Linked DNA regions of Homo sapiens. The protein of the gene in region 1 purifies or fractionates together with the protein of each later gene. This does not show direct contact. Each region holds a gene or a part of one and is shown on either strand. Other genes may lie near its edges.

Region 1 (3,655 bases):
AATGTAGCAGTTTATCATACTGGTGAGAGTTCGGCGAAAAATGATTTAAAAAATAATTCAGCATGAGAAATACTCATGAGATTTTGATAAATTAGTGGATTAGGGCATGTAGAATTTAGGTCATAGTGATGTTAATGACACCTGGTGCAAAATAAATATTTAGTAACAGGAACAGATATTGATCTTGATTTTGGAGATTTTAAAATAAAATTCTGCTGGGCGCAGTGGCTCATGTCTGTCATCCCAGCACTTTGAGAGACAGAGGCGGGCAGATCACTTGAGGCCAGGAGTTCAAGACCAGCCTGGCCAACATGGTGAAACCCCATCTCTACTAAAAATACAAAAATTAGCACAGCATGGTGGCACGTGCTTGTGGTCCCAGCCACTTGGGAAGCTGAGGCATGAGAATCACTTGAACCTGAGAGGCGGAGGTTGCAGTGAGCCAAGATTACCACACTGAACTCCAGCCTAGGTGAGACTCCATCTCAAAAAATAAAATAAAATAAAATTCTGAGTTTCATTTTGAGGTGTTATCTTACATTACCCAATAAGCATTCCTGAAAAGTGTATGTTTTATACTCTATCTTTTTTTTTTTTTGGTTCAGGGGGAACTCCCAACAGGATTTCCTGTGGTGGAAAGGAAGCTTGTTGGAAGGTTTTATTATTATTATTATTATTATTATTATTATTATTATTATACTTTAAGTTCTGGGATACATGTGCAGAACGTGCAGGTTTGTTACATAGGTATACATGTGCCATGGTGGTTTGCTGCACCCATCAACCCGTAATCTACATTAGGTATTTCTCCTAATGCTGTCCCTCCCCTAGCCCCCAACCTGCCTCTACTATATCTTGATATGTACTTGATCATCATACCAGCAATACTGTACTTATTTGTTTATTTTTCCCTCCTTTACTCTTAAAGTTGATGGGGATAGGGACTGTGTCTTATTCATGTTTTTATTTCCAGCAGCTAACCAGCACTGGCATATGGTAGACTTTCAGTTGTCACTGTGAGCAGTCATTTAGCTGGTATTTGTTTTATGTTAATGTATAACAGCTTCTAGGACATTAAGGTTCACATCTCTGTTTTCTAGATTATATAGAGATGAAAGTACCATTTTACCCAACAAAGAGATACACGTAACAATTTTAAGTTTGAACATTTTTACAGTTGTATTAAAAATAGAAATAAGATTTTATAAGACTCTCATTTGAAGTTAGCGTTTAGAAAATTTTCAATAGTATGTAGCTTTGTCAGAGAATAGAATATTGAGTTGGCAGGAATCAAATTGTGTTTTGGATTGTTTTGTGATTACAGAAGGTCTGAGTGCTTACAATTTAAAACCCCATGTCCATTGATGACAATAGAATGTAGAATTGGGAGATGATGTAATCCTTTCTATGTTTTGATATTTAACTATATATATGACATTGATATCCAAAAGATATATATGCATTCCGTATTATGGCTATGTATTTAAAGACTGGCATTTCTTTTTATATTCTACACTGAAACAAAATTACCTTGAAACCTTGGAATATAGTGTCTGAAACCTCTAGAAAGTTTTTTTTAATGCTGGTTGTTATTGTTAAGTATTGTTTATTTCTTTAAGTTAAGGATTTGTGTTTAAAATTCTTTTGTTTCTAGTGTTTACGAAAATGGGGTTACAGAAGATGTGAAGATATTTGTTGGATTAAAACCAATAAAAACAATCCTGGGAAGACTAAGACTTTAGATCCAAAGGCTGTCTTTCAGAGAACAAAGGTATTGCCTTTACTGATTTGTTTTTTTTAATTTTTGTGATTTTCTCTCAAGCTTTTCCAAATAACTGTATACTGTTTAATTAACTTCAGTGAAAAGGTCCTTTTCTTAGACTTGTAAAGACAGCATTGAGCATTACAGGAATACATCCAAATTAGTTTTAAAATGTTTTATTCATTATCTTAGATCAACCCCACCATGCTAGAAAGGGGAGTATATATTCCTCCATGTCCTAAATGCCATATTTCTAAGTTAGATAAAGGCTTTTGATCACACTCACCCGCAGAATTTTTCTAGGCTCAGAAAGAAGAGATAGCAAGATCGCAAGACTCGAGTTGGCCAGCTTAGAGACGTATTTCTCTCTTCTTTCCTTCTTTTTCCTTTACAAGAACCCCTGAGAACTTCTGTTTGTTGTGACTCTGCCCTGCTAGTATCAGGCTTTAACAGTTTTTGTTCTTACTTTTTAGGGAGCCTCTGGTGGGAGGGTCTTTCTTATTAAGTCTTTTTTGTACTGGAATCATGCCTAGGTAATGAAGCCTCCGTAAAATCCCAAGATGGGTTGGAGAGCTTCTGGGTTGGTGAACCTGTGGAGTTTCTGGGACGGTGGTCTGCTTGGAGAGGGCACAGCAGCTCCATGCCCCATGCCCCATGCCGCATACTTTTCATTATGTGTCTCTTCCATCTGGCTGTTTTTGAGTTGTATCCTTTTATAATAAATAGGTCATAGTAAGTAAAGAGCTTTCCTGAATTCCTCGAGCTGTTCTAGCAAATGATCTAACCTGAGGAAGAGGTCATGGGAACCTCTGATTTATAGCTGGTTGGTCAGAAGCACAGGTGACAATCTGGACTTGTGATTGGTATCTGAAGGTGGGGCATTCATGTGGTTCTCAGCCCTTGACCTGTGGGGTCTGCACTAACTAGGTAGATAGTGTCAGAATTGAATTGAATTATAGTGTTGATGGAGAAGTGGAGAATTGCTTGGTATGGGAAAAACCCACACATCTGGGATCAGAAGTGAAGTATTCTGAAAATACTGAGTGTTGTGAGTGCGTAGAAGAGTTTGTTTTTCTTATTTACATGGCAGTCTTTCCTCATCCAGAGATCCAGGTTTTCCTGTTGTTTTGTTGCCCATAGAACTGTATCTCACCAGAAATGGTGGCTCACTTCTGTAATCCCAGCACTTTGGGAGGCCGAGGTAGGTAGACCACTTGAGCCCAGGAATTTGAGACCAGCCTGAGCAACATGGCGAGACCCTGTCTTTACAAAAAATTTAAAAATCAGCCAGGTGTGGTGGTGTGTTCCTGTGGTCCCAGCTACTTGGGAGGCTGAGGCGGGGGATTGCTTGAGCCCAGGAGGTCAAGGCTGCAGTGAGCTGAGATCGTGCTACTGTACTCCAGCCTGGGTGACAGAGCGAGACCCAGTCTCAAAAAGAAGAGAAATAACTGTATCCCAAAGATTCCGAGAAATGAGGATTGTTTTAGAATTGAGGACATCAGAAATGTGAAAGGTTTTGGAATGACTGTTGATGAAAACAGATTAATTGGTCTGCTCTTGTTATTTAGGAACACTGCCTCATGGGGATCAAAGGAACTGTGAAGCGTAGCACAGACGGGGACTTCATTCATGCTAATGTTGACATTGACTTAATTATCACAGAAGAACCTGAAATTGGCAATATAGAAAAACCTGTAGAAATTTTTCATATAATTGAGCATTTTTGTCTTGGTAGAAGACGCCTTCATCTATTTGGAAGAGATAGTACAATTCGACCAGGTAGGACCTCAGTTAACAACAACTTTTATGATTCTTTGGGTTATGCATGTCAAGAAATAGGACATGGTGCTGTGTAAAATAAAGTTCTTATGCATTTGATTCCTTTTCTTGCTG
Region 2 (3,655 bases), on another chromosome or scaffold:
GCACTCGAGGTGGTAGTTCTGGATGCTCAGGGCAGACAGGAGGGCATCCTTCTTCCTGTCAACCAGTTCTCTGAACTGGCTCCACCTGTGAGTGCAGGGGCAGACAGCGAGTGTGAAAAAGGGAAGACTGACCATGGCTGGATTGCAAAAGGAACAGTGATGGGTTAATGCTGCTTATCTGTTTTCTCCATCTGTGCTTTGACTACATGCTTTTTTGGAAAATCATCTCACTCAAACTGTGAACACCAAATATAATGGAAATAGCTCAGGGATGCAATGTAATCTGGAAAAAGCCTGTCACGAAGAGGAATGTGTTACAGAGCTCCAATGTGAGCAATTACAAGATATCCATTCCCAGAGTCAATTAATTCATGTCTGTGACACATTTTACACATCTCTGAACTCTACCTAATGAACGTTTTCCAAATCTAAGACTGATGGTAACCTTCAAAACTGGGGCCAGGTGCCATAACCTACTCAAACATGTTTACTCAACAGAAAGATAAGACTGGAACAAAGGTCTGCCCTGACAATCAGGACTTTCATTGGCAAATTAAGTGTTAAACATGCTAGAGTCCTGTTCCTGAAGTTACTATAAAATGGATAGCACAGGTGTCATCTTAATACCTTCTACACTGGACACAGGTCAAACCAAGGCCCTAACTTTGGTGTGGCGAGGGGCAGATGCTGGGCTGACTCAGATAATCCTCCTGCAACCAATGATGTTGCCCTGAGAGACACTTCTTACAAAACAAGGACATGTCAAAAGGCAGGTGCCAATGCCATGACATCAGTGTTGCAATGTCGATGACCCCATGTGGGAAATTCCCAACAGCAAAGCTCGATGAGTGACCTCACCCTCCCCAGTCCCACACGTGGGAGGCTGGCACACTGCTGGCCACGTGCTCACCTTGTGTTGAGTTTGTCCTGCTGGGCTTTGATTTCCTTCTCACTTGGGTGGCCGCTGTGCATCAGCTGGCGTGCAATCTGGTTCACCACTGCAACCCGGGAAGCCTGGTTGTTCATTTCTGGTTCTAGGCTCTCAAATCTGAAATGGCAATTTGACAGGGTGGTCACCTCCTGGGCCACTGGTGGTCACAAGGAACAGGCCAGTGGCTGACCAGCGCCCCGCTCACCTGTGCTGGATGACCTCCAGATCCTCCAGCTTCTCTGGGATCTGCATGTTGTTGAGCCACTGCTCCTTCTCGTCGATCCAGAGCTCACAGGCATCAGCCTCGCTGAACATCTTGTACAGGGCCAGAGTGTCCTGGAGTGCCTGCTTCCGCAGCCGCGTCAGCTCTGCCACCTCCTTATACCGCTCCTCGATGCCCGACAGCCTGCCCCTCACGTCTGGAGACTCGGCATGCTCCTGGGGGAGGGCGCTGGCTTGTTCGTGCAGCGTGTCAAGGGTGGGCCTGTAATTGGCGATCTCTTCCGCCACGTCCTTGTGTTTCTTGACCAGAGACTGTGTGGAATACTCATCGTGGCCCACGTCGCTGCTGGAGACAATCTTGAGGATGTCCAGCATCCAGGCATCAATGTCATCAGCATCTGCCTGGAACTGGTGCAGCAGGGAGGCCTCCTCCAGGCGCTTCTTCCGAATGGCCGAGAGCTGCTCTAGGTTGGCCCACTGCTCCCGGATGTAAATGATCCTCTCACGGATCTTCTCCGACCCGAAGTGCTCCTCCGCGATCATGTCTTCGCCTTCCTTGATGGCCTGCTCAAAGTGGCCACTGCGGCCGCTCATCTCGTCCTCGAACGCCCGGTGCTTGCTGAGCAGGCGCATGACGCTGGTCAGGTCTTTCCCGTAATCGTCCGAGGACAGGATCTTCTCCTTCTCCCGTATCCAGCCTTCCTCTTCTGCCATCTCCCAGAAGAACTTCCAGAGGCGGCGGGACTCTTCCAGACGGGCCCTGCGCTCAGCCGCCAGCTGGCAAAGCTCTTGATAACAGAACTCCATGTGGGCCACGCGGTCTCGGATCACCTGGGGGTCACAGGGCTTGTAACCTGTTTAACATCAAGGAAGGAACGTGGCTGTGTGAGGGAGCTCAGCATGGGTGCAGGCTCACTGGCAGGCAGTAAGCTACACCCCATATTCTTATGATTACCAGCTCACTGCTAAATGTAAATGCAGGGCCATGCGATAAGGCAATGGAGCACCTTCTAACAACTTGACTAGAACAGGAGTGAGGGCAATGATAAACATTATTTTTTTTTGGCCAAACCGCAGACAAAGTGATCATCCTCCTGCAAGAAAGCACTTGAATCATATGAAAAAGGCAGCTGCATATAATTGTTTCTAGAAATACACGAAGCATAACCAAATCATTCTAAACATCCTCCAAAGAGAGGTATATGCAACCAGCTGTGAAAGCCAGGAGCTGCTGGAACAGCCACACCAGGGTGTCGGTGCATGGCCAGAGAGACTGAGGTATGACAAAGTCTCACTGCCAAACACCAAGCCACTCAAAGCAAAGGCAGCATTTGCGTATTTAAGGAAAGGATGTATCAATTCCAGAAAAACAAGATGGAGTTAGTGTTCAGAAGGCCACTCCACCGTATTTCATGCTCCCATGACAAACCCACCAGGAATGTATAGTGGCACAGTAACTTCAAAAGCCCCACTGTGTTTCTATAAATATGAATCTCTGGTGACCCGGAGGTAATGCTTGGAATGGGCCATCCTTACCTTCCCCGTCTGTTGCGAACTTCTGGGCGGAGGCATTGACACCTCTCACCCGCTCTGCCTGGATGCCAATGTCTGCTTCAACCAGGGTGTGCTTCTGTAACAGGTCTTCCACACCAAGTAAGTGTTTGCCATAGTCTTGAGACAATACTAGCACCTGTGCACAAGAAGCAACCAAAAGGACATCTGTGACTATAGCCTTGACTTCAGCATCACATCATCTTTCGACAAGCAGAGAGCCAGCAATGAAGCTATGCCTTCCCTCTAGTCTGCCATGGACCCCACACCTTCAGGGGAAGATGATGGCCAACAAACCAGAACAAAACAAATCATACCTGAAGGCCTGAGTCAGGAGAGCTATCACAAACTAAGGATCACCAAACTTGGAATAAGTAAGTCAAATCTACACTAAAAAGTGCAGAATAGAAGAAAAAGATGGTGAGGGCCAGCGGGGCCAGGGTGGGGGGGAGGGGGCAGTGGGGAGCGTGGGCGGGGGTGCTGTATGAAAGATTCCAAAATATAAACTGGAGCTTCAAGAAGAAACCGCTGCAACAACTACTCAAAAATAAATAAATAAAGGTGATAGACTTGGTCACTTCAAAGTTGAAAGAAATCTTTTAGAAGTTGCTGAGCCTGTAAGTGAATGTTTTTCCTCTGTTAGGAGCTTATTGGTATGCCTCTACTGTACTTACACAATCAATGGGAAAACAATCTACTTGAAAAGCTTACAAGCCACATCTTTAAACCAATAAGGAGAGCAGGGTCAGGTGGCTGTCTTGCTTAGTAGACCCCAAGCAACTTCTAGAGTTTAAGTTTGAACCCACTGATATTTTCTTGTTTCTTCCATCAACCAGCGAAATTTGGGGGCCTCATTCTACATCCTCGCCAGATGAGATTTCTACTTCACTCTTACTTCTGAGGAAGTCTCTGGACCAACTGAGTTACAATGTGCATCATGATTTATAAAAT

What was found.
Region 2: the proteins of METTL14 (region 1) and SPTBN1 purify together in Homo sapiens (affinity purification with mass spectrometry; 2 studies listed by BioGRID and IntAct, with this or other methods). This does not show direct contact.

The regions. Positions count from the first base shown.
Region 1 is NC_000004.12:118,702,281-118,705,935, forward strand, and holds part of METTL14 (N(6)-adenosine-methyltransferase non-catalytic subunit METTL14), read left to right. Parts: intron 1-605; coding exon of another isoform or gene 606-655; intron 656-1,654; coding exon 1,655-1,771; intron 1,772-3,330; coding exon 3,331-3,541; intron 3,542-3,655. UniProt on the Homo sapiens protein: The METTL3-METTL14 heterodimer forms a N6-methyltransferase complex that methylates adenosine residues at the N(6) position of some mRNAs and regulates the circadian clock, differentiation of embryonic stem cells and cortical neurogenesis.
Region 2 is NC_000002.12:54,627,285-54,630,939, reverse strand, and holds part of SPTBN1 (spectrin beta chain, non-erythrocytic 1), read right to left. Parts: intron 2,844-3,655; coding exon 2,690-2,843; intron 2,008-2,689; coding exon 1,137-2,007; intron 1,049-1,136; coding exon 911-1,048; intron 86-910; coding exon 1-85. UniProt on the Homo sapiens protein: Fodrin, which seems to be involved in secretion, interacts with calmodulin in a calcium-dependent manner and is thus candidate for the calcium-dependent movement of the cytoskeleton at the membrane.